4 linked regions of the Homo sapiens genome follow. The protein of the gene in region 1 purifies or fractionates together with the protein of each later gene. This does not show direct contact. Each region holds a gene or a part of one and is shown on either strand. Other genes may lie near its edges.

Region 1 (5,000 bases):
CAAATATCACTGATTAGTTACATCCTTTGTGTGAGATTAGCTGTAAAGTATACTGCTCTTATTCTTATTCAGAATAGTTAATTGGTAGCCAAAAATACATGTATCACAGATGTTAGGTCGAATTTAAACAGCACAGTCAAGTGCTATGGAAGTTTTTCTGCTAAATTAGTAGATTAAAGAATACTATACCCTAGGCATGGGGAGCAGCACGTTTTCCTTTGGTAGGTAGGATCTCTATACTAGTGAACAGTGCCAGTTCCACACTTTGGACTTAGAACTGTTCTCTAGTTATTGTAACACAGAATACTGTCAATCCCTAATTTACTTAATGTTACTTATTGGAAGTGGGGCTGATGAAATACGCACAGGAGGGAAATCTACTGTGTTTAGGCACAGGCAGCCCCAGTGTATAAGGAGATCATATTCCAAAAGGTTGTCAGTTGGTTGTTTGCAACCTGGAATGTATTTTCCTTTAGAGACCAGGTTATCCATGGTGGTTAGGCCCCTAGAGCAGCTGGAAAAGATGATCAAACCAATAGGTTAGCTGACATCGAATAATGTAATAGGTTTGCTAAAGAATCTAACCATCAAATATAATATTGTTTCCAGGGAGGGTGTTTGTTCAGAGTTGCCTGTTAGTAGAATCTGGACTGTCCATCCCAGCCACATCCCACCTACTGGACAGTAGGGGTAGAGATGCCACCAGACTACAGGTGACCAGATTGGCCTGAAACATGGTGTCCAGTAAAAACGGGGAGGAATAAGTCCATGACTGCTGGAGAGCTTGGTGGTAGGAGGAGGGTGAAGGAGGGTGAGGGGGCCTCTCATGGGTCAGAAACCTCCAGGGACATCCCTCAGCTGGTAACTCTGCTGTTGTCCGGAGGGTTCAGGCTTGGTGTGCCTTCTTCTGTTTGTCTGACTTTTGGCTCCTATGGTTCATCTCCTGCCCTGCCCACCACAGAAAAGGATGCTGCTGCATAGCTTCTCCAATGTACCAGTCATTGAGGCCAGCGCGCAGCACTTTTAATGTTTTTAGTGCTAGTAACTGTGTTTTAACTCTCCAGGAATAAGCTGGGAGGTTAGAAAACAAGAAAAAAGGGGGAAAAAAAAACCTCTCCACCCACTTTCCTTTTTTACAGTTACAGACCCTGTTGAGAAAAAGAAGCACCCAGATGGGTGATGGTGATAGGGCTTGTGGTGGACACAGGGTTGTGGTAAGATTCCTCAGTGCTTCGGCGAGCACCTAAGACTATTACCCTGGAACTGACTGCTTTCTAGAGCTTGATTCATGCCTCTAAGCCAGTGGTTCTCAAAGTGTGGCCCCTAGACCAGTAGCATCAGCATCATCGGGGACCTCATTAGAATGCAGATTCTCAGCCCCCTCCCAGACATGGTGAAGTCAGAAGCTCTCAGGGAGGGACTCAGCAAATGATTCTAAAGCGCATCAAGTTTGAGAACCACCCTAAGCCAATGAGTCTCCCTTTTACTTCCCATTAGTCCTCCCTCACCAGATGATTCCTAGGACTCATGGTGCAACATACAGGAGCCAGGCTTTAGGGAGGGGAGGAAAGGAGCCTGGCGGCAGGGGTCTCTGCAATGGCAAGAAAGTGAGTGAATCCAGCGCTGCCACCTGGTTATCCCCTTCTCGTTGAAAATAGCAGCGCAGGTGCAAATTCCTAAACACAGGCTGCCTGCACTCGGTGTTACCTCGGGCTGAGGCATGATAATATTTTATTTTTTAAAGCTGTGAGGAAATGAAAGTGAGGCTTTGGTTGGGGCGAGGCAGTTGTGAAAGAAATTAAAATAAAAGACCCTTTGTAAATGCAGACTTAGAAGAAATACTGAATTTGTGTCAGAAGTTCTCCAGTGTTTGTGTTAATCGTGTGGTGATAATCCTGTCCTCCTTTTAAAGCGAATTCTCTACTGAAAGGTCTGCTCTGCTTAAGGAGCTACAAACTGCTCTCAAAAGAATGAAATACTGAGTTCCAATTCAGTGAGGCACAGTGTTGGACTATGGCACATTTAGTTGGAGTCGGGGGGAGGTCAGGAATATGATCAGATAATGGATTTTATACCTTAGAGCAAAATCTATTAGTCTCTCTCAGTTTATCAATTTAAATGGCTTTAGGCTTATAGGGGGTGTAAACTTTAAGAATATAATTCTCCCATTCAAGTTTACAGCAAACATCTAGCCACCTTCAAAACAAAGAATATACAGACCATCATTTAGCAATACTAATACATGATTTTCCTTGGGGATGGCAGGTTTGAGAATCCTTTAGCAACAGGACATACTTCCCCTAAATTACAGTGAATTATTTATAACGAGATAAAGCTTTCAGGTACAAGCTGAAGGTGGGGTGTCTAACAACTAAAAACTATCACTAAATCTCAAAGAGAAAGTTCTTGCAAAATATGTAAAGTTCACAAGGTGCAGACATTTTCCTTCTTTAGGCTTTTATCTAAGGAAGGGCTATGAAACTGGGCCCATCTGTATACAGGCTCAAATTTACGTTTTTAAAGGAAGAATCTATGCAGCTGAGGCTTATTGCAGGAAATACTTCATTTGTATGTAAATATTATTGTAAATAAATAGGAGGCTGTATATTTTTGAAGTTGTTGATCTGCACTGAAATAGAAGTCTCTAGGATCTGCATATAAACAATAAATGTTTCCTAGAAATTAGTGGTTTTGTTTGGGAATTAGAAAAATTTACATTCTCTCCCAGGTAACATAGTTCTCTCAATGTAAACTTGGAACCTGAAACCCTACTTAATTTAGAGAAAGAAATGTCTGAGAAATAGTTCCCTTGATTTCTTATGCTGGCATTAAGATCAATTATTTAACAGATAGTCCTCTGAGATACAAGTAAGGAATATTTAGACACAAATCCTTGTCCTATAGAAACAGATATACCCAAATGACAAATTGTTTCTTCATAATGATCTTCCATTTTTAACACTGATACCACTACACAGTACATATGAAAACAGAAGCTGGGGAGAAGAATGTTTTTTTCACAATTGAATTGCTGCATTTCTCAAACTTTGGGATCTATGAAAGCGGGGAGAGGGAACCTGAATATTAATTATGAGCACAAATTTGAAGGAAAGAAAACAAAGAACCATTATCTAATCAAGCTTTGAAAGTCCTGCATGTTTGCCTTTTATTTTAGTGTTGACGCCAACATAGACTGTCTAAGGTATTTTTTTCCCCAAACACTTGAATCTTGGTCGTTGGTATGTAATCCACTCTCTAGAGTCCAGTGTACTTTAGACTTCATCTGAGTCCAATACATGTACCACACTACTGTTTTATTAATGTAAAAACCTTGTAAATGAATTTCAGATGGGTGATTTAAGTGAGTCACAAGTCACAAAACTTTGCTATTCATAGTTAATCAAATAGAACTGGGTTTTTTTTTTCAGAGTGTGGTGTAAATAAAGAAATATAAGAAGTTCTGTTCTATAACTGCTCTGTTAACATAGTTTTTAAACATTAAAAAATGTGAACTAAAAGTATTTAAAAATGTTGTGTTTGTTCTTTTGCAATGCAATACTAAAATGGGGCAGTTGTGTACTATATACACTATTCAGGATTGCTGGAGAAGGGTTATACATATTTGTCAGTGTTCTAGATCATAGAAGGTTATATATTTAAGCACCCTAACGTAAATATTTTTAAAAATACTTCTGATAGAAATCTATCTGGTCTGAAACATATACCACATTTCTCCATTCTTCATAATCAGAGTAGATTCACCATAATATTTTCTTTTTTAAGTCAAGTTTACCTTTATAAGTATTAATTTCTGCCCTGTGTTGTAGGAAGGAGTTGAGTCTTCCTCTACCCACATTGCTGCCACCTATAAAAGAAGAAATTCTATCAACACTTCATTTCTCAGTAACTATTGGGTCAAAGCTAGTGCAGCCTTGTCTTTTTATCCATCACCAACTCCTCTCCAGCATCTTAGAAAGGCTTTACCAGACCAGCAAGATGGCCAAAGTCTGATATCCAAGTTCTTCTTGTGGACAGGGCTAGCACAGGAATAGCCTGGGTCTTTTACGGTGTGGCTGGGAATGAAGACCCCCTTGATGAACTCTTCTGGCCTACCCAGGTGACAGCAGTGCATTCTGTAGGGCCTCGGTGGCACACACGCAAAACTCAAAGTAGAAACCTGGGGTACGGGAGTCCAAGTCATGTTCTCCAATATAACTTCGTTAGGAATAAAGCTGATATTTTTATCCTTACATGCTTCCTATGCCTACTTCTTAATTGATCAAAACCCCAAGGGCAAAGGGTGTGAGTGAGTAATTAGCACTTTTAAACTCAAGCAGTGGTAAAAGTTAAAAGACTATTGAGAATCTGAGCAGATTTTGTTCCAAATTGAAAGGGCCAGTCCTGCAGTGCCTTTGATAGTTCTGGCTTCTTCCTTCTACTCTCCCTCCATGAGTATTTGCTAATACTGTTCCATTCCGTCCTTTTTTACACAGAATTGTCAGGGAAGAGCTATTCTCTGCCTTTCCCATGGAATTAACTATGGGCTTGTATTAGGGCTCTCCAGAGGGACAGAATTAATAGGATATATGTATATATGAAAGAGAGTTTATTAGGGAGAGTTGGCTCACATGATCACAAGGCGAAGTCTCACAATAGGCCGTCTGCAAACTGGGGAAGAAAGAAGCCAGTAGTGGCTCAGTCCGAGTCCAAAAGCCTCAAAAGTAGGTAAGCTGACAGTGCAGCCTTCAGTCTGTGGCCAAAGGCCAGAGAGCCCCCAACAAACCCCTGGTGTAAGTCCCAGAGTCCAAAAGCCAAAGAACCTAGAGTCTGATGTCCAAAGGCAGGAGGAATAGAAGGAAGCACCCAGCATGGGAGAAAGATGAACACCAGAAGACTCAGCAAGCCAGCTTAGCCCGTCTTCTTCCACCTGCTTTGTTCTAGCCATGCTGGCAGCTTATTGGATGGTGCCCACCCCCATTGAGGATGGGTCTTCCTCTCCC
Region 2 (3,897 bases), on another chromosome or scaffold:
AAGAACAAACTTGATTAAGATGCTTAACTCAGCATTATAATTGATAAACCTCTGCTCTTGTCAGTTCTCAAAGTCTTTTGTCCATGCAGTGGTAAGTTGTATTGATCCTACTGTTCTGTACAATGCCCACTGATGATATATGAGCTTGTCCACCTCATAACACATATGATGGTACCAGTTCATTTATGTTTCAGTAAGGAATGGAAATCATCTCCCCACCATGGGCAGGCATCAGGCCTCAGTACTTGTTTCCTCTGAACACACAGAGGAGCATGCAGCATTTTTGGGGTCACTCCAGTCCTAGTGGTCCTCCAGCTGTTAGCTATTTTCACCTCCTTCCTTGCTATTAAGCAGTATTTCCACCCCATTCATCAGCCAGCCTGTAAGCATTGTTGCTTATATAAAGCAAACAACCTGAATTTCAGTATCAAGGTGTCGGAGGGGTTGTTTTCTCCTGAGGCCTCTCTCAGCTTACAGATGGCCGTCTTCTTGCTGTGTCCTTGCATGGTCCTCCCTGTGCATGCGTGCTCCTGGTGGCTCTTACTCCACATTTGCTCCTCTTATAAGGATGCCAGTCAGATTGGATTTTGGCCCACCCTGATGGTCTCATTTAACTTAATCATCTCTTTAAGGCTTTATCTCCAAATATAGTCACATTTCAAGGTTCTGGGGGTTAGAGCTTCAGCATAAATTTTCGGGGAAGGAGAGCACAATTCATCCTATAACAGTTAGGCAGTATTCTCTGACATGCCATATCTGACATGCCTGTGCATCCTCTGGCAGCCTAGATTTCAGCTTAGATGTTTCTTCCTTTAGGAAGCCCTCTCTGATCCTCCCAGATTGGGTTAGAAGGCTCTTCTGTATGCTCCCAAGTCATCCTGTTCTTATCCCTGTCAAAATTCTTCAACTTGTCAGTTTACTTGTCCTTTTCCCATGTAGACTGAAAGTTCCCTGAAGACAGGTAGGATCTTAACTCACAGTTTGCTTTCTCATTGCTAGCAGTGAGGAGAATTGCAGTTGGGTTTTTCCCTCCTTGAAAATGGAATTTCATACTTCAAAGTTAGGATCTACTGTTTTAGACCACATAAACTAATGACCTTCTCTCCCACTTTCCCAAACCTACATTATCTCCCATACTGAGATTCAGACTACAGCCCAGATTTCCAGACTCCCAATGCAGTCTCGACTGTTCTCCTTTCCAACTGCTATCTATGCATGATTAAGAGGTAGGTCATATAACTGCCAAATGATTGTTTACTTCATCATTTTAAAAAGAAATATAAAGGAGGATTTTTATTGAGACATCTAGATTGTACACCACACACTATCATTTCCCGGTCCTGAGAGTGGATCCAGAATTAAAGGTCAAGTCACTTACTGCTATATATGTGGGAAGGCCATATATGAAAAGTCAACCAAGAGTCATGCCTTGATAAATTAATATTTGATGTTGTTTATCACTATTACCATAAAATAGTCTGTATTACACTTAGCCATTTAAATATGAACATGGTATGGTATTTTGAAATAATAATCCCCACACTTCCCTTAATATTTTTTTCAAGGCTTTTGCTCATGTATCCAAGTTGCTGTCACAGTGTAAATTTGATCTGTTGGAAGAACTTGTGGCCAAAGAGGTAAAGTATATTTTACATTTTGCTTTAAAAATAAATGCTATTCTCTTGCAATAGAATGATGCACATTTTCCTTATTTATGCTTAAAAATAGTGTGTGTGCCAGCATCCAAAGTAGAGTCTGTGTATCTGTTCTTATGGGTACTTTGGGTCATATAAAAGCATGGAATAACTCCTGCCACTTAAGGCATAATGAAGTAATCATGATGTCTTCCAATTGCTCTTATATGGAATGTTCTGTTAGGAATTACCTACTTGAATAATGAGATACATTTCAGCCTTGCTTTTGAGGATGAGTAAATACGGTAGTAAATTTAAAAATAGGTTTGGAAAAATGTATTCCATGATAAAGATCACTTTTTGAAAGTTTTCAAAAATTGTATCAGTGAACTAATGGCTTGCTTTTTTCAAACTTAGGTGCTACATGCATTGAAAGAAAAGGTTACTTCACTACCTGACAACCATAAAAATGCCCTTGCTGCTAACATAGATGAAATTGTATTTACATCAACAGGAGACATCTCCATTTACTATGATGAGAAAGGTAATACCAGAGCATAGTCAACTTGAAATGATCCATAATTGTCCAGATAAGCTAAACTAGTGGATAATCACAAAATAGTAGAGTTTTGTCAGGACAAGTATTTATAGAACTTCAAAGAAAATGTTATATCCATTCTTTAAAGACCTACTTCTGAAAGAGTTGAGATATGGTCATCATTTCTTAAGCCTTTCTATCTAGAACTTTTTTCTGCTACTATTTTATTCACAGTAGAGAACATCATCACTTACATTGATGAAAATAGTTTGAGTGGCTCCCACGTCTCAAATAGAAAATATTTATGTTTCAGATTTCCTAACTTGAAGGAAACAATTGAGTATTTTAAAGCTGCACTTTATATGGAAGGAATGAGGGGTAAAAGAAAATCAAATTAGATATTGTCAGCTAAAGACAATTTGAAAAGGTTAACTGCAGAACTCCCAAATTGGATCTATTTGAGAATAATGAAAAAAGTTGGTAGGAAATTTAGTGGTTATCTGGTTCTTCTTGTCTGAGGCATACATTTTCCCTATAGCATTCCTGATAATTCACTGTTTGTTCCTGATACATACAAAGTTGGCCCTCTGTATCTGGGGGTTTCGCATCCACAGATTTAACCAATCTAGGGTAAAAAATATTAAAAAAAAATAGTTGCATCTGTACTTGAACATGTGCAGTTTTTTTCTTGTCATTATTCCTCAATAATACAGTATAACAACTATTTACATTAGCATTTACATTGTGTTAGGTATTATAAATAATCTAGAGATGATTTAAAGTATACTGGAGGATGTGTGTTATGCAAATACTACACCATTTTATATAAAGGACTTGAGCATCTGTGGATTTTGGTATCCACAGGGGGGTCCTGGAACCAATCCTCCGTGGATTTTGAGGGATGACTCTATTTGCATATGTATTATGTGCCAGCCACACAGGAAATGGAGCCTCTGCTTATACACTTCCCAAGATGGAAGAAAAAGACTCTTAGTGATGATAAAATTTTTCATGCACACATTATTTTGAAATATTTGTAAAGATATTTTTAGTGATAAATATTTTCCGCTTCCCTAATATTTCAAATTGCATCTCAGCACCATGGTCACTAACTAATTTTTGCATCAGGAGTTTGTCAGAATCACCAGGCACAGTAAGGTGAATTGGGTAGAATAGGAAGCCTTTACTCTTTCTGGCAGTTGAAGTTAAGATAGTTACTGAGCAGCAAAAAATATTTTTTTTCTCCTCATTTTTGGTTTGACAACAGGTATCTGTCAGGAGATTATTATAATCTTAGAAAATGCCTGGCCAGATGTGGTGGCTCACACTTGTAATCCTAGCATTTTGGGAGGCTGAGGCAGGTGGATCACTTGAGCTCAAGAGTTCAAGACCAGCCTGGGCAACATGGCAAGACCCAGTCTCTACTGAAAATATGAAAAAATAGCCGGGCATGGTGGTGCGTGCCTGTGGTCCCATCTACTTAGGAGGCTGAGGTGGGAGGATCGCTTGAGCCTGGGAGGCGGAAGTTGCAGTGAGCCGATACTGCGCCACTGCACCCCAGCCCGGGTGACAGAGTGAGACTCTGTGTCAAAAAAAGAGAAAGAAAAAGAAAATGCCACTAATTGAAAATAATCCATGTAGTATACTTAGTAAAGTACGTGCTCAGTTAAGTAGTAGTTTTATTACTGAGATACAGAGAAGAGGGCAAGTATGCCATAAACCCTA
Region 3 (4,379 bases), on another chromosome or scaffold:
AAGGAGTCAGGTCTGACAGTGTTGCAGGATGCAGTGCTGGGCTAACGGAAGGTCCAGAGAGGCTCTTAGCACGGAGCTGGAGCTGCCTGCTCCTCCCTCGCAGGACGCTGCCTGGGTTCCGTTCCTGTCCTTCCCTGCCTGGGGAACTAGCAGCCTTTGTGAGTCTCCTTGACAACAGGATGGATAAGTTAAAAATAACCTTGTGCCGGGCTTTCTGTGTGTGAGTGCCCTCTCCCCTGCTGCTCTGGAGCGCAGTCCCTGCAGCTTCTAGAGGCTCCTGAATGCATCTGTGGGAGCCTCAGTGGGGTCCAGGTGCTAGCATTTTGAAGCCCCGAGGTTTTAGAGGTCAAAGCCAGGTGATCAGGCAGCATCATTACCTTGTAACTCGCAATGATTACCGTAATATTACTGGCAACTGGTGGTTGCCGATGGTGTGTGGGTGTCAATGTTGAAATAAAGATTGGACAGCTGTTGTGAATGCTTTGTCTTCATTTAGTCTCCCTGGAGAGGGACGACTCTGGAGACCTTACTGTGTTTCAGAAACTCTGGAGTGGTGTACTGGGACACAGCCCTGGGTGAGAGTTTGGTTATGTCGCTTCAAGGAATCCCCATGGGAAGGAGGGTCCTTACCTTATATAAGGTGAAGACGCCAAAGTACAGAGGCACTTGGGTGACTTATCCAGAGCCACCTGTCTCGACTGTGGCAGAGTAGGGAGCAGTCTGTGTCTTCAGAAGCTGTGGCTCTCTCCCTTGGATCCTAATGATGAGGCCGTCTTTATTGGGCCTTTACCAAAGCCAGCTGTCTCTTTTTTATCAGCAGTCTGCACTAGGCGAGGCCCTCTGTGTTGCTAATCTGTTTTGTTTTTCTGTTTTGCTCATCTGCACTAGTTAAGGCCCTCTGTCTTGTCACAGTTGTAAATTAATTTAGAAAGAGCTGTCTCCCTGAGGGCAGGGGCTGGGTTTTTCTTTACACACCTGGACCTAATTCTTCTCTTCTTCCATCCATTAGTAAGTGTTTTGCTGTGTGCCGTGCATGGGGATAATGAGAACAAGAAGTTATGTTCTTGTCTTTAAGGAGTTTGTCGTCAGCCAAGGAGACATTTACAAAAGTCCCCGTTGTGGTCAGCGCTGAGAGGGAGAAGGTTCTAGTGTTAAGAGAGCAAATCACTGGGGTGTCTAACCTCGCCTGAGGTGAAGGTGGGGGTTAGAGCAGTCTGAGAGAACATATTAGTAACACAAAGTACTCAAATCTGGAGCACATAAACCACTACAAATCAATAAAAAAAGGAAGGCAGAAAACTCCGTAGAAAAACTAGCCAGTGATTTGACAGACACTTGACAGAAGATACCAAGTGGCCAGTGAACATGTGAGACAGTCACAATTCCGTGTATTCATCAGTCATCAGGGAAGTCAGAGGACCTGGGTTAATATGAGACATTGGGCCACGCATTGAACTTCCCAGATCCCGTTTCTTATTTGTAAATGGGGCTTCTCCTGTCCCTTCCCTTCCTCCCAGTACTGCTCTGAAGCTTGCATGGGAAAGGCTCTTCAGACCTTGCAGGGCTATACAGATACTAAGTAGTGTTGTTACTCTAAGTGATTTACTTTCTCCTCCACCTCTTCTCATAGCAACTATTCTGAATTCCCCTATGAAAGAAAATACTTGAGTGGTAGGATGGTTCCTAGGATTCAGAATAGCCTGTCCCTTGATACTTTGGGTAAAGAGCTTGCTGCTGGCATGGCTCTGGTTCCCTCACCCAGGCTGGGAGCAGGGTGACTTCCTGTGGGTCTTTTGTCACCCAGGGCCTGGTGGCAGGGAAAGGACTGAGGTGCACCAGTCCTGGCTCGAGCGTTGTCTGGAGTAGGCTGTCTGGTTCGTTGTCCACACTGACTGTGATTGACCTCCTCACAGAGTGCTCTAGTGAAGTCCGGAAATAACACTCTGGACTTGGGACATGTTGACATTAACAGGTCTACAGGGGCAACAGCCTCACCACCTGGCTTCCCCTGAGAGAGCCTGGTCAGTGCCATTGGCTGCCCTAGCAGGCTCAGGGATAACCTCCTGTTAAAACCGGTCCCAGCCTCCCTTTTGCATTCTTTGGATACAAAGGAGCCATGTTCTCTCTCTTTTGGATCTGCCCTCTGCGGTTAAGCAGATGGTACGCGGTGCAGATGCACACCTCTCTTCCAGCAGAGTGTGGCTGGCCACCTTGGCACATGTCACAACAGTGTCAGGATTGCTGCTAGTCCTGTCAGTCCCATCACCTGACTGTGCCAGGTTCTTAGGCCCTGTTTGGAGTCTTTCCCCACAGATCTCTCATGACAGGCATAGACTTCTCAATGGTCTACTCGGCACTTTTGACCTTTTTCTCTTCTGTATTTCTGCCACTTAGGAGTCAGAGTCAGAAGCAAAGGTAGATGGAGAGACTGCATCGGACAGTGAGAGCCGGGCAGAATCCGCACCCCTGCCAGTCTCTGCAGATGATACCCCGGAGGTCCTCAATAGGGCCCTTTCCAACTTGTCTTCAAGGTAACCTGGCTTAATGATGCAGGTGCTTGTTGGGGGCTTTGCACCATGTCCAAGTGCCCTGGAAGAGCCTGCAGAGAGCCCGTGGTCTTGCAGAGCAGGCCCGCTGTCTTGCCTCAGCCTCCCATGCCACTGCTCCAGGCTCCATTGAGTGTAATCTAGTGCTTAGCAGTGGCAGTGAGCACAGTGACCAGGAGGGGAGGGCAACCAAGGCTGGAAGGATCTGGCCCCGGAAGGGTGCTTCAGACTGGACTAGGAAGTGCAGTTCAAAGAGGAAGAGGGGACAGGAGGGATGGAGGTGGGTGAGGTCAGCTGACACTGCACAGCACAGGAAACCAGCCTTGGGTTTGCGATTAATGGGCAGGCTGCTTTTCACTGAGGAGTCCACGTTTCCAGTTCAGAGTTTAGTTTCTCTCACATCCTTTGTGAACAGTTCCTTAAATTCTCCAGGAAGAACTGGGAAACATCTTAACCTAGGTGAATCTAGTGTTAAAACTTTTGGCCCTTGAGAACCTGGTTCTTTTAACACAGCTATGTGAGTAGATCAAAAACACATTATAAGACCCCAAAGCATTATCTCAGTGTTCCTATGTGTGCCTCCAACTGTCCCCTTGGGAGTCTGAATTGTGCAGTGGTTAAGGGCGTGGACTTTGCAGCCAGACCCTTGGATTCAGATCCCAGCTTTACTGTTTGCCAGCTGTTTGACCTGTGCCTCCATTTCCTCATCTGTAAAAGCGAAGTGTGTTGAGGATTGAAGGAGTTAATATATGTAAAGTCCTCATAAAATTACCTTACTCAGGCCGGGTATGGTGGCTCACGCCTGTAATTCCAGCACTTTGGGAGGCCGAGGCGGGTGGATCAGGAGGTCAGGAGATCGAGACCATGGTGAAACCCCGTCTCTACTAAAAATACAAAAAAATTAGCTGGGTGTGGTGGCAGGCGCCTGTAGTCCCAGCTACTCGGGAGGCTGAGGCAAGAGAATGGCATGAACCTGGGCGGAGCTTGCAGTGAGCTGAGATTGTGCCACTGCACTCCAACCTGGGCTACAGAGGAAACTCTGTCTCAAAAAAAAAAAAAAAATTATGCATATTTATGGTAGCTGTTATTATCATTGCATAATGTTACTATTATTCCCATAATTATTCAGGGCAGTGCAGTGTAGGATCCTGCTGCTGGAAAAAAATATTTTTTTCTTCAGATAGTCAGCTGTAGAAACCATCCAAGTGGATACAGAAGCAGAGGGCACTACATTTCCCTTGGTTTTTTTGTTTGTTTGTGTTTTGCCTGATACCTTCTTTAAGATATAAGCTAGGTTTATTTTTTGCCAAGTTTGGTTGTGACTTAGGCATTGGTACTAGTGGTCCTGCTCCTGCCAGCATGTGGCTGGTGCCTCCGTCACGGTGAATCTGGAAAGGACTGAGCTCAGGGCCCTCATCTCAGGAAGATCCATATCCCTTGAGTTTGTGCATTGGTTTTTTTCTGGGCTCCTAACTGGTGTTTTCTCCTTCCCCTGCTCTCTGACCTAGATGGAAGAACTGGTGGGTGAGAGGCATCCTGACTTTGGCCATGATTGCATTTTTCTTCATCATCATTTACCTGGGACCAATGGTTTTGATGATAATCGTAAGTGCCATTTCACACTATTTTAGTTTTCCCTTCAGTTTTTGCTGCAGGCCCGGTTGTCTTAAGTGCGAGGTGTTGGGTTGGTTGTGGGAATTGACGGGGGTCCAGGCTTCTCAGAAAACCTCTGCCATAGAACATCTGTGACTTCCCACTTCTCAGTAGCCACCTGGAGGGTCATTGGTGTAGGCTGGTTGTTTATGGTTGAAGATGTCTCAGTGTCTTTTCTTT
Region 4 (4,379 bases), on another chromosome or scaffold:
AGGTTAAGACACTGAATTTTATGGGCATTGGGCATGAATTAATCGTTCTCCATCCCTTCTGCCCTGCACATCTGGCTTGGTTGTGTCTTGCACAAAGCAAACCAAGTGGTCGTGGTGTCACCCGAGCCTGCGCCGTGTGAATTGGACATGCAAAAGCAAACGCAGCAGCAGAGTGATCAGCCTCTTTCCACCTGCTTGCATGTCCTATAAAGAGAGCCCTCGAGTCCAAAGTCTGTCCTGGACAGCCTCTGTGATAGGTCTGGGCAGACCTTGGGTGTGTGACGAGGCAGCACCCTGCCCTGCCAGTCACACCACTGGCAGGAACGATTTGGGGCCACCAGTGGCCACAGGGGCAGAAGTCACAGGGTTCCAAGGCCACCTTGAATTCCTCTTTCTTCTGAACTGATTGAAGGAAATTTCATCAGATGTGAATCACTAACAAATTTTCTATTTCTCTCTCCCTCCCTACTTGTCTCTCTCTGATTTTTCTTTTTTGTTCCGTTAATATCCACCAAACTTTTCCTTGCGACCTCCCTATCTGCTCCACCTTCCTCCCGCTAAATGGTGGTTGCTGTGCAATGGGGCATGTGCCTTCTCTCCCTGCCCTGGGTGGGGCTGGCCCTCCCTCCGCACGGCAGTGTGGGGATACGGTCTCCTCTGTGTGACCGTCATCTCCCTCTGCTCCCTCCTGGGGGCCAGCGTGGTGCCCTTCATGAAGAAGACCTTTTACAAGAGGCTGCTGCTCTACTTCATAGCTCTGGCGATTGGAACCCTCTACTCCAACGCCCTCTTCCAGCTCATCCCGGAGGTATGGCAAGCCAGGGCCTTCACCCCGGAGCATGCCGGCGGGCACAGTGGGAGGACCTCCGTTTGGATAGAAGGCATAGAGAGGGCACCTGGAGGCCCTTTCCTTTTGGAAAGCGAAGCTAGAACTTAGGCGTGAACTAGGAGAGGCAGCCCAGCATAGGCTGAAGAGCTGGGTTCAAATCTCAGCTCTGCTATCAGTAGGTTCCGTAACCCCAGGCACACCACTGACCTCACACTGCCTCTGTTTCTTCAGATGTGAAATGGGGAGAGCAATAGACCGGCCTCAGGATGATGTTGTGAGGGTGGAACGAGCGAGTCTGCTGCAGCACTGAGTGCCTGGTGCGGAAAGTGCTGTCTGATGTGGGGTGAAAAGATGCAGTGTAGCGAGCTCACTCTGGCTTAGTTGTGGTGCTCAGATTAAGGCTTTGGGTGCAGAGAAGTTTAAAAAACATCATCAGCCGGGTGCAGTGGCTCACACCTATATTCCCAGCACTTTGGGAGGCTGAGGCAGGTGGATCGTTTGAAGTCAGGAGTTCAAGACCAGCCTGGCCAACATGGTGAAACCCCGTCTATACTAAAAACACAAAAATTAGCCAGACGTGGTAGCGCACGCCTGTAATCCCAGCTATTCGGGAGGCACAAGAATCACTTGAACCCAGGAGATGGAGGCTGCAGTGAGCCGAGATTGCACCACTGCACTCCAGCCTGGGTGACGGGAGTGAGACTCCGTCTCAAAACAAACAAACAAACTCCCACATCATCAGAACCCACAGTTCTCAGTAAAAAGATTGTCCATAGGGAGTTTTGGGGCAAAGGCAATGCAAGTCAAACAATGTCTGGTTTTATATACCTTGATGGTACCTTTGCCTAATAAGTTCATGAGAAAACTTGCCACAAAAGAAGGAGCTGATGGTTCATCTAATTTGGTGTAATCCCCTCAGCAGACCCATTAATTACAATAAGCACAGGACGTCTCCCTGTGGGTGGTCTCGCAGGCCTGGACAGAGCCGCAGTTGAAGCAGAGATGACTGCATGCGCCTCTTACAACACTTGGTGTTTTCTGAAATGTCAGTTGGCTCCCTCCTAGTGGATCCTTAGGTTAACTCCATGGCATCGATAGAACAAGTAACGTTTTACCACGTTGGAATCTGACCTGCACAAGAGCGCATATCCCTGAGTCGAGAACCCAGCTTTTGGGATTTCTGAAGCTCAACCCCATGATTCTGTATTCACCATCCTTTGTGGCTTTTTGCAGAGAAGTGTTCGTTGCCTATTTTCACTTCACTTTTCCCCCAAGATGATTCGACTCCCCTGGAAAGTCAACATGAAAGTGTTGTTTCCCTGGAGGGTGGTGATTCAATTTGGCCTGTTTAAAACATAAAGGCAACAAACAGCCCAGAGTTCCTTGAAGTTGGGATCAACTTTTATTTTGGACCAATTCATGAGAGGGCTGAAGTTTATTCAAGGCCCGTTTCCCATCAGAAAATGGAGGAACAACCCGGTAAATATATATACTTCCTATGTACCCACAAAAAAATTTAAGAATAAAATAGGAGCAAGTCGTTAGATACTTTTTTTTGTTTGTTTTTGAGACAGTCTCACTCTGTCACCCAGACTGGAGTGCAGTGGTGCCATCTCGGCTCACTGCAATCTCTGCCTCCTGGGTTCAAGCCATTCTCCTGCCTCACACTCCCGAGTAGCTGGGATTACAGGTGTGCCACCAGGCCCAGCTAATTTTTGTATTTTTTTTTTTAGTAGAGTTGGGGTTTCGCCATGTTGGCCAGGCTGGTCTCAAAACTCCTGGCCTCAAGTGATCCACCCACCTCGGTCCTTTAAAGTGCATGAGCCACCGTGCCCGGCCAGGTCATTAGACACATTCACAAGAACCCACCATAAATCAGGAGCTTACCCTAGGACAGAATTCTCTTGATTTCTACTCCTGTCCTCTTCCCAGTGGATTCTCCCCTCCCTCTTTGATAAGTGACAGTTTCAGAAAGGACTCAAAACAAAACCCAAAAATTGACGCTCGCAATAACACAGTCCACTTTCTTGGTTCTGTGGTCACTGGGAGGTCTGCGGTTAGGAAAACGCTGCAGTTCTTATTACTTAACTGGGAAATGGGTTTCCCGTTTTAGAAAGTATAATTACACCATCTCCCTTTGTGTTTACAGGCAGGTCAGCCAGGAACACTAGATAAGATGAAAATAAATACAAGTGTCTGCTCCTTCAATATGAAATCTATTGGCAGAGAATGCCTTCATAGCAAAGCACCAAGATAAATCAAAAGTGGAAAACCATATCGGAGGTTTTTCTTTCTGGGATTAAAATTCTACAGATGATCAGTCTTTTGCATCAGCAAATAAGCTTGAGAAGAACCTGGCAGGTTTAGTGATGTCACATCAGGGAAACACCAAGGACTAGATTTTTGCTGGAAAGAGGATGGGTAGACGGCAGAGTTACTCCATTATGCCTCTCTCCTTTCCTAGAGTCAAGGAAGTAGTTAAGAGATAAGAGGGGGATCAGTAAAGATGCTTTATTTTCTTTAAAACTCATTTTCTTTTCCTGGGTCCACAGGCATTTGGTTTCAACCCTCTGGAAGATTATTATGTCTCCAAGTCTGCAGTGGTGTTTGGGGGCTTTTATCTTTTCTTTTTCACAGAGAAGATCTTGAAGATTCTTCTTAAGCAGAAAAATGAGGTGAGGCCCAATTGTTGCTGAAGAAAGCTCTTCTAGGGAAAACACCCATCTCAAACAATGTTGATGTATTGTGGTGGTGGTGGTGATGGTCTTAGCCCAATATCACAATTTCCGTGAAACTCTAATTTCTTGAGGAGACAATCCCATTTCACCTCCTGAGGATATTTGGCCAGAAGTGAGGCCAGACCAGAAACTAGATCTGGCCAGGGTGCCTTCTACTAAGCAGTAGTTTATCCCCTTTGTTTTGTTCTAAGATTATTTCCTTAATATATTTGTATCTTTACAGGATGGGGAGAAGAGCTTGATACCATGCATTCATTCTGTATGAAGTATGAGGCTGCAGAGAAACAGGACTATTATAGTACAGTTTCAAAAAGATATCTTTAGTGGCTGGCATGCAGTTATTCCCTAAATAGCTGCTGAATTGAGTGAGATTAGCCATTGCAAAAGAGGAGCTCTAAATATTTGAGCAGTGGCTGCCTTGGTGGAATAAGCATGTACCCCGAGGAGACAGCTTTGATATCTGTCTGACACCAGGTCCTTCGCACTTGGTGCAGATTTATATATATAGATATTAGAAACGGGGTCTCGCTTCGTTGCCCAGGCTGCTCTCAAACTTCTCAGCTCAAGCAGTCCTCCCACCTCGGCCTCCCACAGTGCTGGGATTACAGGTGTGAGCCACCGTGCCCGACCATGGCTTTATATAATAGCTTTTGCTATGTTTCTGGGCACGTGACCTGCTTGTGTCATCTTCGATGGTAAGGCTGAGGTCTTCCAGTGTGTGAAGCACTTCCTTGGAGCAGGTGCTCAATCAGGTTTGTGGTTTTGGTGAATGTCATGCTGATCCCTCCCTGTCACCCTTCCAGCATCATCAT

Evidence for each region.
Region 2: the proteins of SLC38A1 (region 1) and MAIP1 purify together in Homo sapiens (affinity purification with mass spectrometry; one large-scale study listed by BioGRID and IntAct). This does not show direct contact.
Region 3: the proteins of SLC38A1 (region 1) and CDS2 purify together in Homo sapiens (affinity purification with mass spectrometry; one large-scale study listed by BioGRID and IntAct). This does not show direct contact.
Region 4: the proteins of SLC38A1 (region 1) and SLC39A14 purify together in Homo sapiens (affinity purification with mass spectrometry; one large-scale study listed by BioGRID and IntAct). This does not show direct contact.

What each region holds. Positions count from the first base shown.
Region 1 is NC_000012.12:46,181,584-46,186,583, reverse strand, and holds the end of SLC38A1 (sodium-coupled neutral amino acid symporter 1), read left to right. Parts: 3' UTR 1-3,521; downstream 3,522-5,000. UniProt on the Homo sapiens protein: Symporter that cotransports short-chain neutral amino acids and sodium ions from the extraccellular to the intracellular side of the cell membrane. The transport is elctrogenic, pH dependent and driven by the Na(+) electrochemical gradient.
Region 2 is NC_000002.12:199,957,703-199,961,599, forward strand, and holds part of MAIP1 (m-AAA protease-interacting protein 1, mitochondrial isoform 1 precursor), read left to right. Parts: intron 1-1,565; coding exon 1,566-1,637; intron 1,638-2,051; coding exon 2,052-2,178; intron 2,179-3,897. UniProt on the Homo sapiens protein: Promotes sorting of SMDT1/EMRE in mitochondria by ensuring its maturation.
Region 3 is NC_000020.11:5,171,129-5,175,507, forward strand, and holds part of CDS2 (phosphatidate cytidylyltransferase 2), read left to right. Parts: intron 1-2,394; coding exon 2,395-2,531; intron 2,532-4,054; coding exon 4,055-4,151; intron 4,152-4,379. UniProt on the Homo sapiens protein: Catalyzes the conversion of phosphatidic acid (PA) to CDP-diacylglycerol (CDP-DAG), an essential intermediate in the synthesis of phosphatidylglycerol, cardiolipin and phosphatidylinositol.
Region 4 is NC_000008.11:22,411,399-22,415,777, forward strand, and holds part of SLC39A14 (metal cation symporter ZIP14 isoform a precursor), read left to right. Parts: intron 1-638; coding exon 639-808; intron 809-3,381; coding exon 3,382-3,504; intron 3,505-4,370; coding exon 4,371-4,379. UniProt on the Homo sapiens protein: Electroneutral transporter of the plasma membrane mediating the cellular uptake of the divalent metal cations zinc, manganese and iron that are important for tissue homeostasis, metabolism, development and immunity.